Linked DNA regions of Homo sapiens: all the other regions are reported to be linked to region 1. Evidence: microRNA targets listed by miRTarBase, many of them from high-throughput screens and not tested one by one. Region 1 holds a microRNA gene; each other region holds the end of a gene's coding sequence.
The links. The annotated mature microRNA hsa-miR-4666b reads UUGCAUGUCAGAUUGUAAUUCCC and lies in region 1 at 1,395-1,417, shown strand. An mRNA with a match to its seed (bases 2 to 7 or 8) in the 3' UTR can be bound and repressed. Matches are read on the target gene's strand: a 7mer-m8 pairs with bases 2 to 8, a 7mer-A1 pairs with bases 2 to 7 and ends in A, and an 8mer does both.

Region 2: the mRNA of FOXN3 is a reported target of hsa-miR-4666b. Seed matches in the 3' UTR shown: 8mer at 1,683-1,690.
Region 3: the mRNA of TNR is a reported target of hsa-miR-4666b. Seed matches in the 3' UTR shown: 8mer at 6,868-6,875, 7mer-m8 at 10,351-10,357, 7mer-m8 at 10,365-10,371 and 7mer-m8 at 10,391-10,397.

The regions. Positions count from the first base shown.
Region 1 is chrX:29,572,892-29,577,891 of GRCh38, forward strand. MIR4666B (microRNA 4666b) reads left to right here and starts at 1,387; the gene lies at 1,387-1,467. All of the region lies in intron 5 of IL1RAPL1 (interleukin 1 receptor accessory protein like 1), which reads left to right.
Region 2 is chr14:89,155,178-89,166,036 of GRCh38, forward strand. FOXN3 (forkhead box N3) reads right to left here. Exons shown (of 6, transcript NM_005197.4): 6 at 1,000-7,792. The coding sequence ends at 7,237. Among named protein-coding and RNA genes, the nearest start is that of TRA-AGC15-1, 180 kb to the left of the region's middle. RefSeq lists enhancers at 9,814-10,745, 9,990-10,039, 10,240-10,369.
Region 3 is chr1:175,315,307-175,326,165 of GRCh38, reverse strand. It overlaps TNR (tenascin R), which reads left to right. Exons shown (of 23, transcript NM_003285.3): 22 at 1,647-1,810; 23 at 2,690-10,859. The coding sequence ends at 2,809. LOC105371623 (a long non-coding RNA gene) reads right to left here. Exons shown (of 4, transcript XR_001738302.2): 2 at 5,045-5,184. Among named protein-coding and RNA genes, the nearest start is that of KIAA0040, 130 kb to the right of the region's middle.

The sequences.
Region 1 (5,000 bases):
TCAATTGCCTGAAATTAATACATTAAAATAACAGAAAAATAGTGTTATCTTAGTCTGTTTGGGCTGCTATAACAAAATACTTTAGACTTGTAATTTACAAACAATAGGAATTTATTTCTCACAGTTCTAGATGCTGGGAAGTCCAAGATCAAGGCACCAGCAATATCAGTGTCTGGTGAGAGCTCTCTGCTTCATAGATGGTGGCTTGTTGCTGTGTCCTCACATCATGGAAGGACAAACAAACTCTCTCAGGCTTCCTTTATAAGGGCATTAATCCCATTCAGGAGGGTTCCACCCTCATGATATAGTCACTTCACAAAGGCCCCACCTATTAATACATTTGGGATTGCATTTCAACATATAAATCATTGAGGGACACAACATTCAGACCATAACAAGAATAAGCTTGGATTTGGAAAGAATTTGAAAAGGAAAGTAGGAATACAATTGACTTTCCCAAGTTCATAGGTAGTAACAAAGAATGAGCAATAATCAAGATGCCTTTGTTCTTATCTTTCCCCAACTCAAATAAGTTATATATAAAAATTCATTTCTTACTAGGTCCATTATACTTGTCTATCTCTTGAAAACTTGAGTGTCCTAATGAAATGAGACTTCTATTTTGTAAGATGAGAGAAAGGTGAGGCAAATATTCTGAGGCACCTTCTAGACTGCAGAGCAACATGCACTGAGTTTTTTGAAAGATTTACCAGTTTTAAAAAATAAATGCTGTCTTGTTCTTCATCATCCTCCCATCACTGGCATATCTTGGTAAAAGTGAGATGTTATCAGTGAGAGCCCTTTAGGTAGATCCTCGTAAAAGTTACCATTTTGAGAATTGTATTTATGATTGTTGGTGTGTTAACAAAATCATGTTGCAAGAGAAATGGACTTTTGGCTAACTGCCTAGCTCTATTATCCTAGAAACTAGTTAAATGGTATATGTCAACTATTTTATGATAAAAATGTCCCCCGTGGATGGATGAGATGTATCTAGGTTGGAAGAACCATAAATACTTGAGAAGAAGTCACAGCTTTGGGTGTTCCTAGGTGCAGGGACTCTTGATATGGGGCATATCCCTTGAAGGTCTTTGGAAGCTGTATTAGTCCATTCTCACATTGCTATAAAGAACTACCTGAGACTGGGTAATTTATAAAGAAAAGAGATTTAATTGTCTCATGGTTCCACAGACTGTACAGGAAACATGGCTGGGGAGGCCTCAGGAAACTTATAATCATGGTAGAAGGCGAAGGGGAAAGCAAACATGTCCTATGTGGCTGGAGCAGGAGGAAGAGAGCAAAGAGCGAGGTGCTACACAACCAGATCTCCTGAGAACTTACTCACTATCATGAGAACAGCAAGGGGAAAATCTGCCTCCATGATCATGTCTAAATTGCATGTCAGATTGTAATTCCCAGGCCCTTCCTCCAATACTGGGAATTACAATTTGACATGCAATTTAGACAGTGACACAAATCCAAACCATAACTTTCCGTCCCTGGCCCCTCCCAAATCTCATGTCCTTCTCACATGGCAAAATACAAGTATCCCTTCTCAACAGTCCCCCAAGTCTTAACTTATTCCAGCATTAACTCAAAAGTCCGCAGTCTGAAGTCTCATGTGAGACAAGGCGAGTCCCTTCTACCTATGAGCCTGTAAAATAAAAAACAAGTTAGTTAATTCCAAGATACAATATGTCTTGGCTATTAGCATTCGGCTCCTCTTTACTTATGCAAATCTCTGCAGCCAGCTTGAGTACTCCCCAGAAAACAGGTTTTTCTTTTCTACCACATGATCAGGCTGCAACTTCTCCAAACTTTTACCCTCTGCTACCCTTTTAAATATAAGTTCCAGTTTCAGATCATCCCTTTGCTCATGCATATGCTGTTAGAAGCAGCCAGGCAACATCTTGAATGCTTTGCTGCTTAGAAATTTCTTCCACCAGATACTCTAAATCGTCTCTCTCAAGTTCAAAGTTCCACAGATCCCTAGAGCAGGGGCACAGTGCTGACAGTCTCTTTGCTGAAGCATAACAAGAGTGACCTTTGCTCCAGTTCCCAATAAGTTCCTCATCTTCATCTGAGACCACCTCAGCCTGGGTTTCATTGTCCATATCACTATCAGCATTTTGGTCACAACAATTTAACAAGTCTCTAGAAAGTTCCAATCTTTCCCTCAGCTTCCCATCTTCTTCTGAGCCCTCCAACTGTTCCACCCTCTGTCCATTAACCAGTCCCGAAGCTGCTTCCACCTTTTCAGGTATCTTTATAGCAATGTCCCATTTCCCAGTACCACTTTTCTGTATTAATCAGGGTTCTCCAGAGGGACAGAACTAATAGGATATGTGTATATATCAGAGGAAGTTTATTAGGGAGAACTGGCTCACATGAACCCAAGTCAAAGTCCCCAAAAGTCTCCAAGCTGGGAAAACAAGGAAATAGTAGTGGCTCAGTCCGAGTCCAAAAACCTCAAAAGCGGGGAAGCCAGCAGTGCAGCCTTCAGTCTGTGGCTGAAGGGCTGACAGCCCCCAGCAAATCACTGGTGTATGTCCAAGAGCCCAAAGGCCAAAGAACCTGGAGTCTGATGTCCAAGGGCAGAAGACTCCACAAGCCAGCTTATCCCACCTTCTTCTGCCTGCTTTGTTCTAGCTGCACTGGCAGCCAGTTGGATGGTGCCCACCCACATTGAGGGTGGATCTTTCTCTCCTATTCCACTGACTAAAATGTCAATCTCCTCTGGCAACACCCTCACAGACACACTCAGAAACAATACCAGCTAGCTAGGCATTCTGCAATCCAATCAAGTTGCCACCTAATATTAACCACTACAGAAGCTGTCAGTGGTGTTGTCCTGAATGACGTTGGCCTGTACCTGTTAGGGTGATAGCTCTTCTAAATCAGAACAATTTCCCCATCTCAATAATGTGGATCTGTTTCCTTGAACCTAAACTGTGTCTCTGAGGGTATAGCTTCCAGAGGGCTGTGTGAGCTGTCATACACATGAAATGCAGCAAGGACTCTTATGGAGAGGACCTCTATCACCTGACGTAGTTTCTGAGAAGACTCATGGCAACAGCGCCTATCATAGTTTTGAGTGTCTGAATGTTTAATTAAATCTACAGTGACCCCTTGGAGGGTGATTGAATGATATTTCTCTACTCTCCAAATATGCAACTTCGTTCTTACCCTCTGCATCATCATTTATAAAATAGAAAGACTAGAGCTGGTTTTCTCCAGGTGTGGATCTCTGATAATCCTCAGCAGAGTCACTTGGGATACAGATTCTCAGGTCTCAACCAAGAGAAATTAAATCAGGATCTTTGAGGTTAGGGTCCTGTAATCTTCTTTTTTAACACCTTCTCCTCCCCATGGTACTTGAATACACAGCTGGACAAGATGCTCATTAGTTTATTTTCTATTTTAGCCCTTGACCTTATAATTCTAATGATTTGTTCCTCCCATTCTACATAATGTCTTAATGCAATTCAAATCTCATTTCTTCAGAAGACCATCAAGGAATAAATAACTGGGAGTTTCAGAAATGGCAACAGTTTAGGGAAAATCTCTGTAGTTAAGTCAGGTTTGAGAAACCCCTGGAACAATTTGTTGTAATTGTATACTTTTTTAAAGATCCTTTTGGTCCCCTGTAATCCTTATGATTATTAAAACATACAGGTCCTTAGCACCATATAACGATTCTGTTTAAACTGTTGGCTTTTCTTTTTTTTCAACATGCTATCACCATTGTCACTGTTGCCTTGACTGTAGGGTAGTGACTTGCTAGAAGGTCAGAGATTATATTAGGTCTTACCAAACAAGTGAAAATCAATATTTTCACTCTCTTTAGGAGAATGAGTTTCATATATACTCGAGATGAAAGAAAAATTCCCTTTGTTGTTCTGCTGAAGTTGTCAAGCCTTCCATTAGTCTAGGTTAAGTTTCTGGGGTTATGAATTTAATTTTGGTTTCTAATATTGATTTATATTTCATAAAGACTTTGTTGGTTACAAAAAAAAAATCCTCAGTAAATTTTTCTACTTCAAGGGCAGTGCTTTAGTTTAGAAAAAGATGTGTTTCTCAGTGATTTAGTTTCCATTTCTGGACTTAACAATAATGAGTGAAACAGGAAATTTTGCTGTGAATTATGAAAGGTTATTATACAGTATTTCCAAGCCACTCAAAATTATGCATTCATCTTAGGCTCTTAAATTTAACAAAACTGAATGAGATTCAATACTATTTTCTCTGTTTTATCAAAATGTTATTGAAAGTTGTTTAAGATTTTATACTCCTCGAGGGCACATATCTTTTGTCATCTTTGCATTTTCAGTAGTGTTTTTATACTGCAGATAATTTATGCACATTTTATAAATGAGTGAACAAATAGATGTTATGAAAAAAAAGTACTGTTATCAGATTCCAGGATAAAGTAAAAAGCAATATTTAGCAATCCTCCATATACTACAATGCCCTACCCAAGCCTGTTAATTCCACTCCTCATCCTCATCCTGCCACAAACATTTTCAGAAGTCCTCAGACATCTCTGCTATATTCCCTAACTTGCCCCAAACTCCCGTGATCCAAAAGTAGGCTTCCCTTTCTCAATTAAACTTCCCTTTCGCTCAGTACCCCAATCTGAGCTTGCTATCCTGCGGAGAGTTACCTGGGAAATGAAGAGATGCAGCTGTATGATATATATGAACAAGTTTACCCTTACTGGGGAGATTTGTATTTTAAAAGATGGTGATGGAAAACTACAGTGATATATACATGCTAACTTTTCCCAATGTTCAAATTTCAGGTAGTGGGACATATGGCAAAGGTATTTTTCAATAGCAACCTAAAGACCTCTCAGGGAGGTGACCTCCTTTTCTGCCTCCAAGTATTGCTGGTTCTGCTATAACCTGATATGATTTTTTATTTATAGAGTGCTTTTTATAAGTTGCCTTCTTCAGGAAACATAAAAGAGTGGGAGGGGAAATGAATAATCTCTCATGCTT
Region 2 (10,859 bases), not on the chromosome of region 1:
GCTCTTCCTCCCAATCAAGTCTCCTCAAATATTGATTTGTACCCTGGAGGACACATCACAGCTTTGAAAGTGATTCAACAGTGGGATCAGATATGGCAGCAATAAGGGCCAAACCCACAGGATCCAGAGGTGACCACCTTGAGATGGGTAACGGGGAGGAATTTATCCCCGTAAGCTTACCAGGACAGATGGGCCTATGACCTCAGAATGATACCATAACTGCAGGAGGACAGGAGACGCAGCCCAAGCATCTTGGAGAACAAAGACACCAGTGGATGTGGGGGCCCAGCAGAAGGGTAGTGTCCAAGGCCAACTCTACACTACGGTTACTGTTGGTGGCAAGACCTGCAGACAGGACATGCTGAAAACAAAACCATCACAAAAGGAACCAGAGAGATGCACGAGAACATCCTCTTTCTACTCCTCCAGCACGGTGAGTGGTGCCCTGTGATCCCTTCCTTGTTCCCACTCCCCTCTCTCCCATCAGCTCCTTGTTGGCTCCTGGGGGATGTGTGTGCGAGGGTCTGGGGTGGGCACTTGAGTGATGACGTAATAAACCCTGGCAGATGAAGGTCTTAGGGCTAGGAATGTCATTACAAGAAACCCTCAGGATCTGGGATAGGCTGGCAGGCTCCAGTACTAAAGTACAATTGCAGTTTATTGTTTGACAACTTCCAAATGAAAGGGAAGCTCTGTCTAAACCACAAGTCTTAAGGCTCATGATGGGAGGCTGGCCAGCCACCAGCTACACCAAAGCTGGAATTCTCTTGAGATCCCGGGTAAGCCCAGCTTCCGAATGTGCATTTGTGTTTGCAGAGCAGTGTGTGATGCCCACCCAAGCCTACGCACGTGTGAGGATGGGCACAATAAATGCAGCTGAGAACCCCGAAACCAGACTGCAAAAACTGCACACACGCCTGACCGCAGGTAAGGAACAGAAATGACGTTGTGGACCAGCATCTGCACAGGGAGGCGCAGCACACATAACACTACGTGGTGTTTTTCTTCAATTGATGCAACTCAGTAATTTTTATTGCAACTGGAAGACAATACATCACAGAAACTTTATGGTAGGTCTGGGGAAAAGTGTTATTTACAATAAATGATGAAATAGTTTGTCTTTGGCAATATGATTACATACGAAGAATGCAAAATGCAGGTATGGATGCCTTCCAAGCAACACCAAGTCCCTAGAGTTCGGCTGATCGCGCCTGCCTCCACACTGTTTCTTTAGGTTTACATGAACATAACAGAACATCACGTTCTTTCTCCTTTATGGTTCTCCCTTTCTATTCATGATATTGGCAGTTTCATACAGAAAATACAGAAAAAAAATTGGCTTTTGAAAAATTATTACTCTCGTAAATTAATTTGGCCGTGTAGGTCTATTGGCCAGCCAAGGTCAGACGACCCTAAGCATCAATAGTAAACCTCTTGGTCTTCTGATTGCTTTATCACTTTTTTTTTTTTTCTGTAAAACAAAACAAAACTCAGAAATGTTACAGAATCAGAGTATTAAAAAATGTACAAGTGTATATGCTTCCCAGACACACATGGATACATTTTTCCTCCACATTTTCACCATGGCAGTATTAAGTAGTGAGTGTGAATGACACAGCATGAAACTGGTTACTGAATCAGCTATGAGCTCAGATGGCCTCAACATACATACTCAAGAAATGTTGCATGTTTAAATAACTGAGAGTGTGCTAAATCTCATCTAAAAAAAAGGAGGAGAGGGGCTGGGGAACTCAGGCCACAGTCATGAAAGGATGAATACAATTTCTAGGTTTAATAGGTTCACCATATCGAAGTCTTTGAGAATCCAATATGGAATATCAATTATTTTGCAAAAGGTAGAGAAAGCAGTTCTCAACTTTTGCAAATGAAATACAGTGGAAAAACACTGTTGTATATATTCCAAATAAATAGTCTCGATTTCAATGCTAACAAAACAACAGGAAGGGTACTCGTGAGCATCTCACGGTTAAGTCAGAAATGATCGTTCACACACGTCTGATTTCAGAAGTACAACAGCAAGGTGCAGCACCATAGACACATCGGTTTCGGCTGTTAAAAGATGGATCGTTTTAAAAACTGTGTTTTCCTTCCTTAATTTTTGGTCAGTGAAGCTAGCACTTGTTTGCTGAACTGTGGAAGAACTGCAAGGTCACACACATTATTCATGATAAAGCAACCGAGCTGACGAGTCTGTGCTTAATTCAAGAATAACCAGTAGGAGAGAGAGAAAACACAAGGAGTTAACCACCATCGCCGGTGCTCTCTCAAAGGAAGAGGGGTTAACAGATGAATTCACAAAGGTAGGCAGATCTATACAGAACACTGAATGCCATGTGTAAATCCTCATGAAACTCCAGAAACAGGAACACCACACAATGTATATACTTTGATTTACACATTCCGTTACAAAGGAAAAAAAGACACCATTACAGCTTTGTAACTGTGTTAACTGCAATATAAACCAAGTCCAGAGTTTGGCAGGTAACTAAAAGAGGGTTATCACTTAGGTTATATAGCAAAAGTGTTGATGTATATTATATATAGTAGTATAAATAATAAAAAAGTATTATTTAAATTAGATCACAGTGCTGCATTATGTGCATAACAGTGTTTGATATAGTATTGGTGGGCTGGGACCTACGACACTAAGGACTTAACTGTCAACACTGGGAAGTCACAATCAAGAGGAAACACAGAGTTCCAATGTTTTCTTTTGGTGGCAAAAAAAATCCTGAAGATGAAAGAAAAATACTTCTCTACAGAAACATAAAAATCAATTGCAACATCTGGGCAGCTGTGATCCACCAGAAAGAAACGAGTCCCAACCTGGATTAAAGGGAAAGAGAAATCACATGGAATTTAATCCAATCTCATCTAGAAAAGCTTCCCATTTAGGTCACTTGTACGTAACTCCAATTCCTTCTCCAAGAGCCCTTCCAGGAGAGGCCCAAGGCGCCCCCCACAGAGTGGAATGAGTGGAACTTGCGTCAGTAGCCCTTGGCCTGGGCAGTCCTGGCGTGGTGCAGAACTCTGAGCTGGGCACAGAAGGCCTCCACCTGGTTCTCACTCTACAGAGCCCACTGCCTGATGCTGTCCCTCAGGCAGGAGCCTCCTTCAACACAACGGCCCCTCCCAGAAGGCTCTGTGGTAGTAACTGCTGTGGCCAGCAAGCACTAGACACATTGAATGCCTCTGCAAAACAAAAGAAAACTCTGTTCTTGGGAATCGGCCTCTGGCACATTCCTTCTTAAAAACTCCCAAGATTGAGACCTGCCACAATCGTTTTGGCCATGGTTTTCTCCAACCACCAGTGAAATATGGGTTTGGTTCATTTTAGTTTCAGATAGATGGCTTCACCAAAGAACTCTTGAAAGAATACTGATTAGGGAGGGGCAGGGAAGTAGGAGCTTATGGTATATTATAAGGCTGGGAAAAATCTATGATGCAAACCCTTTCCACATAGTACTAGATAAAGACAAAAGACAATTATAATAGGATAAAAATAACTGTTTATATGTATATCATTTAAGAAAAAAAAGAGTGACTGTCTCTTTCTCTTAAATGTATCCGAGGGCCAATAGCAAGTAATCGTAGACGTCGTGGTGTTGATGTGTTCACGGTTGGTTTCCAAAGCATCTTTAAATATTGCTATAGTTCCCCGTTTCCCCCTCCCCCCTGCCCCGTGTGAGTATGTGAGATACTGGAATGACACATGAACCGCCACTTCTCCCAGCAGGAGAAATGAAAGCAAAAACGCCACACCTCTTAATGGTGTTCAGGCGATCTGTCAGACTAATGGATACATATGCTAGTTTGGAAGCTAAAAGAACACCTGACGTTTGGGAAGGAATTCCAAGACTAAAGTGAATGACACTTAAGCAAAATATTCTTTCACAAATAGGCTTGTGCTTAAATTCTCTACTGCTCTTGGAGGAGGGGATAAGAGAGGGTGCCTCCTGCCCCTTGGCTTGTTAAGGACACGGACAACCTCATTCTCCAATAAATTCACTACAAACAGCCACATACACATTGATACTTTTTGTTTTTGTTCTCAACAATCAAAATACAAAGTTAAACACAATTGAGCCATTGTTTTGGTTATGCATAATGTGTATGCCTCCAAAAACAGAAGAAAAATAGGAAGAAGTACCCTCACTAAAGGTTCCCCGACAAGTCTTCCGGCAGATCCAACGAAGGGAGACTCAGGAAAATCACACTTAGAAAGCTGCCCGATGAGGTATTTATGCAAAAAGAGTGGTTCTGGAGTTAAGAACACACTTTTATATTTCTCTATTTCTCAAAGAGATCAGAAAAGTAAATCACACACATTGCATTTTATTATTTTCTAAAAGAGGCCTCTGCCCCTTTAGAAAAATGAAATGAGGGGAGACAGCCCACGGTGGGGGTTTTAATTGGAAGAAGTCCTCGGCCAGAAACAGTCCTGAATGTTGAACCTCTGCCTTTCAGGAGAGAGGTCTGAATTTTATCATCTGTGGGGTGGGATGAAGGTGGGGGACTGAGCTGGAGGTCTTTAGGCTTGGTCAGGTGACAACACAAATCAAGGTGTCGCTCAGGTTCCATAGCTGTGGATGGCTTTTAGGGTGTCAGATGTCTGGGGAGACGGAGGGAACAGAGCACTGCGAAGATACTTTATTCCCACCTACACCCTGAATAAATATGCTGGAAGTATTCAGCTTCAGGTCATGAATTCGACCTGCTGTAGAGGTGTAGGTTTTTTCAGGTTCTCTCATCAGCAACCCACCGGAAGGTAAGTGTGGGGAATGCACCAGTTAGTTCCCACTGTCCGGGCTGATGGAGCTCTGACATTACCTCGTCCTGGCAGATGGGCTTGGCTTTGGCCCACAGCAGTCCCTTTTTTAAAAGTTAAGGTCATCTCTGTTCCCTCCCTCTCCTCACGCATCATATCCTGAGCCACAGTACTGGGTGTTTTTGTTTTAAAGTTTCCCTCCACTTGGATGGAAGATCATATTCTTTTAGAGATTTCTCTTTGTACCCCCGCCCCCCGCCCCCGCCATTAAAGAAAATTTCTTAGGCAAAGGTAACAACAGGAGTTTCTGGGCTGCATGACGTTGTCTGGTTTCTAAATTCAGCTCTCGCAATCTAGGTGGTCTTAATTCCAGGTTGGTCAGTGTGCTGAAGGTAGCGATGGCCGGCCCCTGCTTCCTATTGCGACATGGCATTGTGGCGATAGGATGTCTGGGGCTGGCCTTTCCTACCTCGGCATCGCTTCCTCCTTCACATGAACCCCATCTCGTCCCCTCACCCAATAAGGCCCATTAGCACGGTTCCCCTTCTTCTGGCTAATTTGCATAATTATTCACTGCCTTTTTCCTAGAACCAAATCATGGTAATGATTTTCTCAAGTAAGCGTCCCATAATTCTCTTGATTCTATCATACACACTCACTACTAAGTTTGCCCTCAAATTATTGCGTCATGTTAAACATGTACAGACAGAGAGAAAGGACACACTTTTCAACAGAGAATCAGAGGGGGTCGGGGCTGAAGTGCACACAAGGCAGTACAGAGTTCAACCATCCAAGCCCTACCAGAGCATGAAGATATTTTTATATTGCAGAGTAAGTTCCCCAACAGTCAGAATTTGTCCCTGAAGAAGGTTAAACCTTAAACACCTGCTTCAAAAAACCAAAACAAAATAACCCGAAAAAAAAACAAAAACAAAAAACAAAAACAAAAACAAAAAGGAAAAAAAGAAAGCAAAGAAAAGGAAAGAAAAAAGAAGAAAACCAAAAGAAACTCTAAGCCTAAGGGCTTAAAAATTACAGGCATAGCCTTTTCTCTATTTTCTATATTTATATGAAAATAATTCATGCTTCATGCTAAATACATTATTTACCTTACAAGAACTTTGTTACTTTTGAATAAAAAAAGTTTGTTTTTGTGATTTTTTTCTCTTTTTCTTTTTTTTCTTCAAAGGAATCCATGCATTGTGGATCAGAAATTTCTGCTGGCTATACTGGCTGAATGTGGAAATCACTGATTTTTGCAAAGATAAATCCTGATATTAATTGCAAACTCCATTTTGAGGGCAGTATAGGAGTTATTTTATTTTTTGCCATGTTTTACTTTTTTTTTTTGTCCATCAGTGTACCTTTAATCTTAAAAATACACCACAATACTAATGGCAGGTTCCGTAGCTTTCTAGTTTTTTTTTTTTTTTCACTTGGATCAAATAGTTTTGATAGACAGAAAAAGATCTGTACCATTATTTCCTTTCCTTAACAGCTATTGTAATTTCCTGGACTTGGTTGCTTTTCACTTGGGCAGTTAAGAAGACACAGCTTGTTTTCCCCATCAGTTTTCTCTCTCTCTCCTTCGTGTGTGTGTGTGTGTGTGTGTGTGTGTGTGTGTGTGTGTGCGTGCGTGCACAGGGCCAATCTTCAGGCTTATGGCTTTTGGAACATTTTCTTAATTTAATAGAGAACAGAATTCAATGATTAGCAACATCACTAAAAATTTACCCCATTTCTTCTCCATGAGTCACTGACACCCGATGCGCATGAACAGTCCAACGTCCACCTCGTAAGATGTCATCGGGCTTCAGGGTTCAGAAGCATCGAGGACTGGTGGCCGGCCCTCTGTGCTCGCCGTGTGACAATTCCAGTGGCTTTCCTGGCACCATCAGATGCCTGGTGCCACAAGCTTGGGTCTGCTCCTAGGGGGACGAGGGGTTCCTCCTCCTCCTCAATTGCTTTATGTGCCTTCACTCAGTGAACCCAATGGGATGGACAACCTGACTTTTTAAACCTAAGGGTTGGGCCTGAACGATGATTACTTTGCCCACGTGCCTTCTAGGTGCCGAATGTGTGTTCCTGTGATATTGACGTTGACATCCCTGCGGATTCAGCCACAGGTTTCTGACAAGCTGGAGGAAGCAATGGTAATTTTGGCTTTTTCGGTTTTGTCTTCAGATAATGAAAAGCTTTTGTAAAACAGCTGAGTGTCAATATGAGTTCTATGGCTTCAATCTCCTTTAAAAATAAAATTCTTAAGGGTCCAAAACAAAGAAGAGGGGGCAAATTAAAACAAAATAAAAGGAAAAGAAAAGAAAGAAAACCAAACCAAAAACAAGAAAAAAGAAAAAAAATTGCTGATATTGCCACAAATCATTAGAAATCTCCTGACATGCTGAAACCAAATGGTCGTAAGTTCAAAACAAATCAGTGACTTGTTTTTAATTTTTTGTGGTTTCCTTTTGCTCTTTCTGCCCCTTTGCCGTCCGATTGGTGATGTTATTCAAACAGGACCGGATCCCTGCTAAGTGCAGGAGGGACCCTGCCGCTTCTTTCATCTCCTCATCATCGCTCTCGGGGGGCTTTTCGGTGCGTCTCTTTTTGAGGGGCAGTGTGTCGCTGGGGACCTTCCTGGCCTTGGCGAAGTGCTGGCGCTTCTTGTGCTGGGATGCGTACCCGCTGTCCCCCAGAGAATCCTTGGGCTCCTTCTGGCTGTGCTTCCTGTCGTCCTCTTCCGTGTCGCTGGGGCTCTCGTGGCTCCGGAAGCTCCCCTCGCTGCCCTCGCTGCCCTCCTGGCTCCCCTTGGTGGCAAACTCATAGTGGTCGTCGGCTGAGGAGGAGGAGGAGGAGATGGAGTCGCTGGTGGGCGAGGTGCTCCGGGCGTTGGAGGACTTGGCACTGCTGTAGTTGTGATCCTCCTTGGGGTCTCCGCTGACCACTGGGGAGCCACAAGATGGCTCACTCTCAGTCCGCATCCGGCAGCTGGTGATGCCATTCCTGCAGAGCGAGGACAGTGGGGAGGGACGGGAGACAAAGAAGGGACACAGTTAGACGTCCTCAGATGGGGGCACCCGGCAGCCCGCCTGCATTCAACCATCAGTCCCTTTGTGTTCAATGGAGCCACTCGCAAACTGTGGGGGCAACAGGTGGATCTGCTTTGAAGGCAGGGTCCTAAATCCTGACACCTCAGTCTCCCCTGCTTATCTCCTATAATGGCAGTTTCACTCCATTTGTGTGGCTGAGACGTCAAAACAACAATCTTCTGAAGCGACAGTGGTGGAGGCTCCATCTCTTACATTAAACCATAAAAATCAAGCTGTGCTTGGTTCGTGTCCCCGCCAACACCACAGAGTCAGACACCGCCAGACGATGTTGGCTGGGTACTTCAGAGAAAAAAGCCTGCTCTCGTCTGAAGCGGCTACATTAGGAGGCTTTTGTCAGAAGACTAAACCAGTGTTCAGCAAAGATACCTGCCATGTGGTGACAGCTACTCACTCATGCATTCCCTCCCTCGTTCATGCAATCTACAAATACTCACTGAGCGCCTAACAGAAATGCATGACCTTAGGGAGGGTTCTGGGGGAGGGACACGGGGTTGGATCGGATATAGACACTGCCACAGCGATGTTGCAGCCTAACAGAGAGGCAAGCCAGGGTCGCATCACAGACCAGAGGGCAATAAACTACGACTTCCCGAACTCAACACCTGCCAGGCGCTCTGCTAAGTCTGTGCAGAGGACCATGTTTAACTCCGTAAGGTGGATATTAGCATCCTTATTTTACAGTGGCTCGAAGTGAAGCCTGGAGAAGTTCAGTGATGTACTTAAAGTCACACAACTGATCACTTGCGGAGCAGGGACTGGAATCAAAGTCTGACTCTCAGACTTGAGGTCTTAGCTACATCACCAGACCGACCCTCCTTTGTGATTTCCCTATAACAAGGTCCCTGCTACCCATGCCTATAAGGCGTCTGTAGCACTCATCACACCTCTGATTATTTCTTTGTGTCTTTACATCTGAGCGATGTACTTTCCTTGTGCTTCCTTATCGCGAAAGTGGGAATAGTAACTACACCTGCTCCCCGTGGGTGTGGGGCTGAGGACACGAATTAATGCCTGCAGGTGCCTGGACCACGGCTTGGCCTGACAGCAATGGCTGTGAAGCTTATTCCTGGTTAGGACCCATGCTCCTTATGTCTGGGAGGCAGCTGCCTGTCTGTTAGTGCCTGGCGCCCAGCCTTCAGAAGGATGAATACTTGCAGGAGAGGAGGGTCACTTGTAGCTGAAGGGGACGAAGGGTGGACGCCAGGGAATGTTTTGTGGAAGACAAGGCATCTGACCTTGGACACAAGGGCTGAAGAATTTGGCAGGGATGGGAACTGTTCTATGGCACCATGCTGGCCCGGTTTCCTGTAAGCTCATCTACCTCGTGATCCATTTCTAAGAGTTCTGGGGAACATGACCATACTTTTCCTGCCTAGATGACCCCAACTGTAAGTACTCTTACATCCCCTCCATAGAGGGCACTCCCCACCATCATTATGAACTGTGTGGTCATGTGTCCCATTAGAGAGCTAGCTCCATGAGACAGGGTGTGGTTACTGCTAGGCCCCCAGTGGCTATCGCCGTGTCAGCACGGTGGACACAGCAGATAAACTGAGGAAGTGCGGCACAGGTGGAATCACGTGGCTGAGAGCATGAAGCTTGGGAAATGACTGTGGGTCTCCACCACCATGACTCACCGGGCACACGCTGAGGATACGGCACTGGTAGAAGGGCTGTGGGGTCAGGACCACCAGTGAGATAACAGTAGTGACAATCTCTACCCTGGCTTTTCTCCTGTCACCCTCATGGGCCTTGAGGCTCAGGGAGACTTCAGCTGCATCCCACATAGAAAGTGAAAGGGGAAGGGAAAGAGTCCCTAATGAAAAGGGTGCAGTAGGGAGTGAGGCGAAGGAGCTGCTCTCCTGGGGCCCCAGGGCCGGTGGTATTTTGCTAAATTTAGGCTGGGGGAGAGACTCCGTACTGTCGTGTCCACCAGCAAAATGTATGAGGGTCATTATCAAAACTCAGCCTTTGCTAGATGTCCGAGAGCCTCCTGATGAACCCCAACACTTACAATGTGTGCATTTGTACACGGAAGTCCCAGTGAGACCCAGAAGGGTCCCAGCTTGTGTCCTGTGCTCCGTGATCCCAGATACACACCACCTCCCCTAAATCCTTACAGACAGAGCCTGGCTTGCAAGCCACACACGCCTGTGCTCATATCCCAGTGTTGCTTACTGGTGACTTTGAGCAGGCTGTTTTACTTCTTGAAGACTCAGCTTCCTCATCTACCTTGTGGGGCTGCGTGAGGATTAAATGAACTGTCCTGAGCACAGAGCAAGGCTGTTTGTGGTGCCTGATCATGTTTTTTACTTGTGGTCCGATTCCTGCGACTTCCTGCTGCTGTGACTTGTTCACTCTGAGCAGTCTTGTTTTCTCTTTCTATTCTGGATCGGGAGGCGTATGGGAACCCAGCACCAAGTCAGAGGAAACAGGCCCTTCAAGAGGAGTTCCTCCAGGGCTTGCCTGTGAACACAGCCCCTGAGCTTTGGGGTTTGGCCTCCTCCGTATCTGTTTTCTGCAGACTTCCTATTTCTTGGCTGTGTCTTGGGTGCATAAAGATGGCTGGGATAAGATTACTTTGAGGTGTCACCAAATGTGAAACTTGGTAAATGTAATTAATCATACAGCTAGCTATTAATAGTTATTAGAGCAAACGAAAATGAAAGTCTCGTTGTATGGTCCTTTTAATTTTTGCCATTTGAGGGAACTACTGTAAAATACAAAAATAATTCACCCACTGAACTAACATCAAACAGTTTCATAGTAAATCTAAGTATACTTGAAAGAGTAAAGTGGGCTATATTTAGCTTTTAATAAATGGATTCAGTTCTGAATGTTTCTTTTAAAAAATAACTTGGGGCTTACAACTCACGTCACTACCACAGTTAAGCAGAACATGATCCCTCTCTGAACACAGATGGGGAGAATCACGAGTGGGAGAGTGAGAAATAAAGCAA
Region 3 (10,859 bases), not on the chromosome of region 1:
ATATCCCCAAAAGAGAACACGCAGCCTGTTTGCCCCTCAGAATAAAAATCTCACCACCTCTTTAAGCAGTCTATTCCACTTGTGAACACCTCTAATATTTAGGTAATTTATCCTTGTATATTTAGCCTAAATATGCCTCTCTTTTTTTATTACACTCTAAGTTCTAGGGTACATGTGCACAATGTGCAGGTTTGTTACATATGTATACATGTGCCATGTTGGTGTGCTGCACCCATTAACTTGTCATTTACATTAGGTATATCTCCTAATGCTATCCCTCCCCCCTACCCCCACCCCACAACAGGCCCTGGTGTGTGATGTTCCCCACCCTGTGTCCACGTGTTCTCATTGTTCAATTCCCACCTATGAGTGAGAACATGCTGTGTTTGGTTTTCTGTCCTTGAGATAGTTTGCTGAGAATGATGGTTTCCAGCTTCATCCATGTCCCTGCAAAGGACATGAACTCATTCTTTTTTATGGCTGCATAGTATTCCATGGTATAGATGTGCCACATTTTCTTTATCCAGTCTATTATTGATGGACATTTGGGTTGGTTCCAAGTCTTTGCTATTGTGAATAGTGCTGCAATAAACATATGTGTGCATGTGTCTCTATAGCGGAATGACTGATAATCCTTTGAGTATATACCCAGTAATGGGATGGCTGGGTCAAATGGTATTTCTAGTTCTAGATCCTTGAGGAATCGCCACACTGTCTTCCACAATGGTTGAACTAGTTTTTAGTCCCACCAACAGTATAAAAGTGTTTCTATTTCTCCACATCCTCTCCAGCACCTGCTGTTTCCTGACTTTTTAATGATCGCCATTCTAACTGGTGTGAGATGGTATCTCATTGTGGTTTTGATTTGCATTTCTCTGACGGCCAGTGATGATGAGCATTTTTTATGTGTCTGTTGGCTGCATAAATGTCTTCATCTCCACCTACTAATCCTCATACTTCCCCACAGAATTTATTTAATTTTTTTCTCAATAGCCCATCAAATATTTGGTGACAGTGATCACAGGCCATGTCTCCCTCTTGAAGTCCGCTCTTCCCCAAGATACAGCCCAGATGTCCCAAGCACTTCTCCTTTGACATGGTTATGTTTTTTTCATCATCCTGTTTCTTACGGATGGGAATTCTAATTTGCTGATGCCCCTCTTCCCATGTGGCCTCAAGTTCAGAATGCAGTTTCTTGGGTGTCATCTGAGCAGGCCTGGTAAGCCAGGGAGAAGCCAGGCTGAGGCTGCATGGTGGTGCCCTAGAATGGCCCAAGTCTGCCTGGCTCATCACCATCTCCTCTGAAGACAGGAGGAACCATGAGTGGCCTGTGTCCACGTACAGGCTGGGAGGAAACAGCTGAGGGTTGGGGGTGGGGTGGGCAATGAGATGGGGTTAAGTGGAGAAAATTCTCAGCAAAGGTGGTCAAAGGGATTAGGAAGTGGGTTGGAGAGAGTAGCATGGAAGTGGTTGGCCCCAGGGGTAAGGTGGAGTAAGAGTTCAGCACAGCCACTCTGAGAAACTGGGTGGAAATGAAAAGGTTCCATAAGTGGAAGCCAGGTTTGCTGGAAGTGGGTCAAGTGTCCAGAAAATCCTGATAAAGCAGTGACAAATGGGACAGCCTAATGAATGTATCTTTTTTGCAGGGGACTCCCTCAGCTATCATCAAGGACGCCCTTTCTCCACAGAGGATAGAGACAATGATGTTGCAGTGACTAACTGTGCCATGTCGTACAAGGGAGCATGGTGGTATAAGAACTGCCACCGGACCAACCTCAATGGGAAGTACGGGGAGTCCAGGCACAGTCAGGTAAGCGATGCTCCACCTCTGCTATGAATGAGCCAGAGCTGTGGAATCCGTGCTCCCTTAGCTTTATATTTTAAAAGCACATGTGAGTCCTTCATTTCCCTTTAAAAAGAAATATTTTGAGTCTTGAGAAAAATAATGCAGACAATGGGATAAGATCAGGACAGAGTAGAAGCCAGAGGAAGGAAAGGAAAGGACCCAGGAGCCAGAACTTACCCAGAGAAGCCCTTGGATCCAGAAGATCCCATGAAGAGAGCTTATCAGTCCTGGGGACAGCTTCACAGACTCAACTTTACCCTAAAAATGGTCCCAGGAAGGTAGACATCGAAAATACCAGTGTGAACTGGACAATCTTTCCCTATCAGAGACCACAAGTTTATAGGCTAAGCTGGGTGACAGGGAGACCACCATGACCAACTAGACTTTCTAAGTGTTAACACTGAAACAGCCCACATCAGGGAAGCCCTTCAGTTCTAGGCAAACCAAAAGGGTTTGTCACCCTAGGTAGAAACCGCCTAAGTCTCCCATTAGGAGTGAGCAGTCAAACACAGTTATTCTCTTCCAAATGCTTCCACCCTGTTGGGATTTCACAACCATCTACTGGTGCATGCCACTCCTGGAAGCCAAAAACAAAGCTGGCAATAAGGAATGACCTGCAACATGTTCCCTGGAAAGACCCAGGCCACCGGCACATTTAAGGAGAAAGCTAGAAAGAGACTCTGCCCCTTTCACTTTATTGGGAACTCGGCCTTGAAGCTTCATGTTAGCTGAAAATAGCTAACCCCACATTGTGGATTCCCTGTTCCCATAATTACCCCTTTTTTGAAGTGGGGCGTTCCATGGTGGGGGATGACCTGACATGCTTATCTTTCTCACGCCCAGGGCATCAACTGGTACCATTGGAAAGGCCATGAGTTCTCCATCCCCTTTGTGGAAATGAAGATGCGCCCCTACAACCACCGTCTCATGGCAGGGAGAAAACGGCAGTCCTTACAGTTCTGAGCAGTGGGCGGCTGCAAGCCAACCAATATTTTCTGTCATTTGTTTGTATTTTATAATATGAAACAAGGGGGGAGGGTAATAGCAATGTGTTTTGCAACATATTAAGAGTATGTGAAGGAAGCAGGGATGTCGCAGGAATCCGCTGGCTAACATCTGCTCTTGGTTTCTGCTGCCCTGGAGCCTGACCCTCAGTCTCCATTCTCCCTCCTACCCAGGCCTCCTCAACCTTCACCTCCTTTCCCACCAAGGAGGAGAAGTAGGAAGTTTTCTTAAAGGGCCAATTCAAAGCCAAGTCGTGGGGTGCAGATTGTTATGGTGACAGGCACACACATTTTTCTACCCTTCTTCTGAGATGTCCTCTGCCTTCCAGGTATTTGTGATTTTGTCACAGCCTGACATGGCCAGGTTCTCACACTGGCCCAGAGAAAAGAGCCTCAGCAAGAGAGTTTTGCCAACAATTCCCCTTAAAAGGAAACAGATCAACTACACCGCATCCCAACAACCCAGGTTCTTTTCCTTCCTTCCTTCCTTCCTCCCTTCCTTCTTTCCTGCCTTCCCTCCTTCCCTCCTTTCTTTCTTGACAGTATCTCACTCTTGCTCAGTCTGGAGTGCAGTGGTGCAATCTCAGCTCACTACAGCCTCGACTTCCTGAGCTTAAGTGATCCTCTCGTCTCAGCCTCTTGAGTAGCTGGGACTACAGGCATGAGCCACCATACCTGGCTGATTTTTCTTTTATTTTTTGTAGAGATGGGGGTCTCACTGTGTTGTCCAGGCTGGTCACAAACTCCTGGCCTTGAACAATCCTCCCACCTCAGCCTCCCAAAATGCTGGGATTACAGGCTACAGCCACTGCATCCAGCCCCAAGTCCTTTATAATGGGCCAAAGATTCTCATCTTCTGACACTCTTATTATACCAGCCACATGTCCTGTTACCTTTCAAGAACAGTGGCTCTTTTCTGGCCCTGATGGAGTCTTTTGCCTAATCCCATCCTGTCTTAGACCCCAGAGCCTCAAAAGCCCAACCAGCATTTTGGAATCTAGTTCCCAAGGCATTGCCTGCTCCTGGCCCTGGGTGGCACAGTGGCTATGTGCCTGTGAGTCATCAGCCACTGCCCCCACCCTCAGGTCAGACAGACAGTCACTTTCTGCAAAGGTAGGAGGGGGAGATGGTTGTAGTTTTTAGCACTTTTGGGTCAAGCATTGAGGAAAGGACTGAAGAAGTCAAAATCAGGGCACTGCCATAGAGATTATAGTTTCCATGGGAAACACAGATCTTCCCTAGCCCTGTTTTCTCCATTTCTGGTCCTATTTGTCACAGATTCTTTTTTTCTGAATTGCAAACCGAAGGCCTCATATCTATCTTCACCCAAGCCCTCCTTAGTGTAGGTGGCTTAATAAGAGTCAGGAGAAGAAGGTATATGCCCAGAGAGCTATACCCCTGACTGATAATCCTGGAAAGAGGTTGATTTTTTTTTTCTTTTTTGGTCCTATGGGAAACAGGAATGACCTTCTTAATGAGGTGAGATCATGAGAAGCCTTTCCATCTTCTTTTATTATTCTGCCTTGCAAAGGAAAAATGACAATAGCCAAAGGAAATTACATCCAGAAATCCAAAGGTGAATAGGTGATAACTGTGGGCCTACTTCCCATTTTATGAGATGCACTGTCTTCACTAGCACAATTTGATCTTAAGCCCAAGAGAGCTAGATGCTCTAGAAGCCGTGACCTTTCAATTTCTCCTCCAAATCCAATATCAGCAACCATCCCCGCAACATCTGCCCAGATCCATGCCCAGTTCCCTGAGCTGTCTTCTCCCTTTCCTCTCCCATTCCTCAAGGCCCAGCACCATTTTCTGTAGTGCCTATGTTTGTCTGACCAGAGCAGTGTGTACCTTTGCCAACCAGTTACTGGATGAGCCTTAGTGTCGGCAATTTTCTAATGGAAATATCCTCACTCTTACCAAGCTTTGAGAACCAAGATGAAAAGTCCCTTGGGCTGACCATCAGGCCTCGGACCTCATGGGGATGCAGCCAGCCACCATTGAATGGAGGCGCTTCCCTTGCCGCAGGCTTCTAGGCTTTGTTCACTGCGGCAGTGTGGATGTGACAGGCATAACCCTGAAAAACCTAGGCACCACTTGCATTTCTCAGTTAACCATGGGCTTCAACAAACTGGGAGGAGGAAAAAACAGAAACAGATCCTTTCAACAAGCATGTAAATTACAGAAGACTTACCTAGAGACGGGGCAACAATGAATAGTAGGAAGCACATTGCATGGGAAACTTGAGGGCCGAGGTACAGGCCAACAGCTGTCATCTTAGCTACGACATGACATCGGCTGGGTTGTTTCACCTCTCTGGGCCAGTTTCTTCATCTGTCAGATGAGAGATTAGACTAGAATGAGTTCTAATTTCCCTTTCAGTTTTGACGGTCAATGATGCTAATCTGTGATCTGAAAACCTAAGTAGAAATTGGCATGGTGGGACAGCACAATTAGGTAATGAAAATTCACTAGACTCCCTGTTTAATGAGGAAAGAAGGAAAGAAGGAAGGAAGGAAGGAAGGAAAGAAGGAAGGGGAGGGAGGGAGGGAAAGAAAAGAGAGAGATTGATTCAGGAGTCATAAGTAAAACACACACACACACACACACACACACACGAAAATACTGCAGAAAAGATCATGCCGAGTGAGAGGCTGAACTCTTTTTGTCCATAAAAACAGAGACCAGGTACCTGGGTGGTGCCAGCACGCCCACTTCATCAAGGAAGTTGAAATGGAAAAAGATTATGTGTTGTCAATTCAGGTGAAAGTCAAGAAACATCAGTGGAAACAAAAATCTTCCTTTTATTGAAACCATTCTACACTATGGAACATTTTTATAAATAGTACCAGCGGCATTGCATAGCTTTATTTTGAAGCAAGAAAGAGACTTCAAAGATCAGCTTATTCAACCCTCTATAAAAGGATTTATAGATTCCTTTTATTTAATAGGGTGATTTTCTCATGAGTTTTCACCATGTTTAAAAGACACTGTGCCCCACTCTCATCCCAAGGTCTATGGTCAACTTGACTCAATGCTCATAACTTTCCTCGCTGATTCCTGCTTATCCTGCTCCTCCAAGCACAACTGCATTTCCCAAAGGTAGATCCAGTAAGCAATACTCTCAAAGCACCCACCCTATGCACACCAGTTTCCCTCAAGGGACTCAAAAGGAATCGAGGTAGACCCTTCTCAGAGGCTGTTTAACTACAGACACATCAGGATATGTACTAATACCCAAAACCAAAACCACCACCAATGACTGCAATAGATTCACTGTCTAGACCCAAGGTCCAGGCAGTTTCCCTTTTTTGCATTTCCCCAACATATAAAGATAATTTCCAACATATCAGATGCACATTCACCAGGGTTATTTCTGGAAGGTGAAGGGGTCAGGTGTAGAAGAGGTGGCAAGAATGACAAGTCTGTGGAAAACTGTTGGCCTTGAGACCACAGTGAACTGGTGGAAGGGGACTTGCTAAGTGTGGCCACAAGGTGGCAGTCACCTCCTGAAACCCCGTGTGAAACGTCAGCGGGGTTGAGAAAGGCCACGTCTCCAAGTTTCCAGGAGAGCCAAACCAGGACTCAGGAAAACCGGCCAGCTGATTTGTATGGGAGATTGATTTGTAAAAGAACAACAACAACATATGGCAGCAAGGAAATGCAAAGCAAACATCTACAAATATTTGAATCCACCTGTCCCTCACCTACCAACTTCCCCCTCTACTACTCATAAAGTGGTAGGACTCCTAATGCCCCGCTTCCTTCCACCTGAGAACCAACCAGCACCCTGATATTTCAAAGCCAGACCTAAAGAACCATGGTTGCCAATAACCTCAATGCCAAACCAAACAATCCTAATCACATTTTTACTTTTCAAATCCAGTCTCAGAGCAGAGCTGTAGATTAAGGGACAAAAAGTCATTGTGGAATCTTTTCAAATAGCTCTTGTAAAAGCATCAGTTGGGAAAGAGTTTATGAGTTCCTCTTTGTCCTCTCCTCTGGAGAAAAGACAGAACATGCAAGAACACTAGATACACCAAGCTATGGGTGTTGAAATAGACTAGCTGGTGACCTGGATTTGCAAATACCCTAGGGACATGAAAACATTTTTTCTTTTTCTTTTTCTTTTTTGTAACCTCCACCCAGAATTTCAGGAAAGGTGGGGCCACATGCCCAGGATATATGGTATTCTACTGCTTGCTTTCTTATCACCAGAATACTAGTCAATCTGATTTCTTAGTTCCATGTCTTTTCTTCCAAGGAGGTAGGGCATGGGGTTGGGGGACACTTTCCGCCTTCCTTGCATCTCACTGTCCACTCTTAAATTTTTATTAAGAAACCTCTGAAAGATTCAAAATTCAGTTCAGTTTCAATAATCCCAAAGAAGTTGGGATAATTTGTTTTCACTTGCTTCAAACTTGCCACGGCTGCAGGAGGAGTCTCAGGACCTCAGAGGAATGGGGCAGATGTGTGAAGTCTGGGAGTCTGCCTCCCACCCAGATGCCAGGAGCTGCATACTCAGCTCTGCCTCACTTCCCTGATGGTCTGCTTTCATCCAGGTTACCATGACAGAGAGGGTCTATCCTCTAAAGAAAGCTGAGTTACAGGCTGGCCCCTGGGGTTGTTCCTGTAGCCTCTCTTTGACCACATTCCTGAAGATGTTTAGCTGAATGCCTCCTCAAACCTTTGCTTCTTCCATAACCCAATCCTACACATATGTGATAAAGCTTTCTTCAACAATACTGGGTCATTTGGACACTACCAGTCCAGATGAGAACTCACAGACCAAATGAAAACTTTCAAAAGCAAGCAGGGAAAGTAACTCCTATATGCTTTAAGATGATGTATTGGTGTAGATTCAGGTCCAATTTGAAAAAATGTCTCTGGTTCTTTCTAATTGTATCCACTCTGGATTTGTTTATGCCAGTTCTACATTCATCAAGCCTTGAGAAACAGGTGGAAAGAAGAAAAATATAAAATTAAGAAGAAGCTGATGGATCATTGGAGATTCAAAACAAGCCTTCTACCGGTGGCACCACACTGAAAGGCAGAGACAAGGCAGGAGCGGCCATGGGAGAGGAAGCAGCATTGGCTTCTCACGTTCTGGCCTCCAGCCTCCCACCAGAGCTTCTGCCATTCACCCACTTAACTTGAGGAGAAACTAAGGCACCAAGGCCTGTCACTGCACCGAAAACCAGAAGCAGAAGGACTTTCTTTCTTTGCTCAACCAGTTCTGCCTGGATCTGACTTTTGCGTCACCAGTAGTCACAAGCCTGATTTGTCATCTCCAGCATTCTGTTTATTTTTTTAAGGTCAATCTTTGCCTGAAACATGACTTCATTGCACCTGCAGCACTTCATTGTCCAAATGTCCTTGGCAAACCTCACAGTCTTTGGACAGTGTTGCATTTTCTCCAAAGGGGAAATCCTCTCTCCTTCCTCAAGCTTAATAAGGCTCTTGCAGTGCATCCAAATAACACAGCTCTTGTTCCTCAGACACACTCAGCCCCCTCTGATAACTTCATAAAACAGCTCCTTATTGTCTGGGCCATGAAGCCAGGCTAATGCTAAAGTTCCAGTTCAAAAACATTTAACTCTATTATCCTTATGAGGCCAGCTCTCCTGGGTACTGGCACTCACTCACTGGCACCATGGATTCAGGTCAGGTGGTGCAAACATCTTCCCTGAGAAGCAAGCCATACACCCAACAGGTCTAGAACACCTAGGTCACAAGAAAGGGTTTCAGTCCAGATGCACTGTCAGTAAGTGAACACAAGGACAAGAATGCATGAACTGTTATTTTCTTCCCATCACTGGTTTAGCAGCCCCTAGGGAGACCCTGTGTTGCTCTTTAATATTCTGACATGGAGCACTAATATGCTCAACACTGCCTCCAACAGGCAAATGTTGGAAATACACTTTCAGAGCTGGATGGGACTCAAGATCATCTAATATAATCCTCTCATTTTATTTCCTCTCAAGGAAACCAAGGGCAAGAAAGTTTAGGCAATTTGCTCACATTCACACAGGCAATTAGTAACAGAGCTGAGTTCGGGTCTGGTATAGGCTTTTTAATTTGATTCTCCACAAATGAACACTAAGATAAATAGCATTTATTGCATACCCACTATTTACCAGATACTGTGCAAAGGGCTTTACATATATTACTTTACTAAATCCTCACCATAAACTTTAAGTCAGGTTTAACCATTTTATAGAAGAGGGAAGGGAGGGCCAGGAAGGTTAAGTAACATGCTCAAAGTCACACAGCTACTAAATAGAGCCATAATCTGAACCTTTGTCTAATTTTGAAGCCCTTGATTTTTCCACTTCATGAGGCTGCTCTTTATATTTATTTAGCTGAGTGACCACCATCTTGGATTTTACTAATATTCTTACAAGGGGGCTTTGATGCCACTTCTTCTGACTTTTAAGAAAAGGAAATTCTTGCATTATTTTTGCCATGTACTCCAGGGGACCCTCAATCTCATCATCATGGGGAATAAGAAACATTCTGACATCTCTTTCCTTTTCTTTCTTTTTAAATTTGGTAGACGAGGGAGAGGGTCCCCAACAGAATGAGAGGGGGAAGATAAGAACCAGAACATAAACCCAATACCCCCCACCCCACTCTTTTGGGAACATCCCAACATTAGAAGAGTGGGATATCCAGTCATTTTTTTCAAGCTGGAGCAGGCAGTGTAGCCAGGATTGAGGAAGGAGAAGCCACAGAATAAACATGGCACATGTTCTCAGAGCATCAATTTTACTCCAGAATTTGGGAAGAAAGGATTATATTATTAGTGTATTCAAACCAGTATGGATAGCACAAATGCAGATATCCTATAAATTTTGAGGCTAACTCCAGCAGGTTGTAGACTGATTTAGGCTACCTCCTTCCAGACTCCCAGGGGTACAAACACCTTCACAGTCCCCTGCGGGAGTACATCAGTGGAAATATTTGGGGAATGAGGCTAGAAGGCAGGAGATACATTCAGTTTACTTATCCCCCTGGTTTCTTTTCCCCACTCCTTACCTGCCCCACATCCCTAGTGGGTGGGAAGGCATCAGAAGACAGTTGGCTACAATATCAGCTTTCTCTGCTACTTTGGGGAATTTAGAAGGAAATCAGTACTTGGCAACCTGGTATTTTTAGCTGCCAGGCCAAAACTCCAGACATAAACCCCTTCCCTTTAATTGAATGATGTTTATATATAAAGGAATAGATCTCCCCAAGAAAGAACCCCAGAACACTGGTTCCATTCCAGTGTGGGGGCTGCTTGGGCAGCAGTGACACCTGTGCATTAGATGCAATAGACACTTCAATTCCTGCAAAAATGTCGGCCAACTAAGTGCTCCTTTACCAACTGCGGAGGCCCAGACTCACACCATGGTCCCACAGACTCAAGGTTTAGAATCTATGTGAGTCTATTTTGGTTAACACACAGGCTCCTCCTTCCAATCATTCACACACACACACACACACACACACACACACACATGCACACACACACATGCATGCACACATACACAGGTGCACATGCACAAACACACACATCTAATGATTCCAACCTCGAATACTCCCCAGGCCCATGGGGATGCCCAAGTACCCTAAGCAAATCACTGTGACACTGAGGGGGTCATTAACTGGGGCTCCGAGCAGCTGAAACCCACCCTGGTGGTCTCTAGATTGTTGTTCTGAGAAATCATAAACACCAAATCCTCCAATCCCTTTGAATTTGAGTTTGTCATTTTAACCTTTAACAGCCTTTTCAGGTAAAAATAACAAAGACCAATTTATTGACTTTGTAGCTACAATGAGCTTGAAAAAGCGCTTACTTAAAAGAAAGACTGGAAGGAAGAAAAAAAAAAGAAAATGGAGTACATACTCCTCAGACGATGCACACTTTAATTAGCTAAAATAAAAATAAAAATGTACAGAGGAAGGGAGAGGAAAAACCAACTTCTCTGATCCTTTCATGGCACTGTAGCTCAAAGACTGGAATC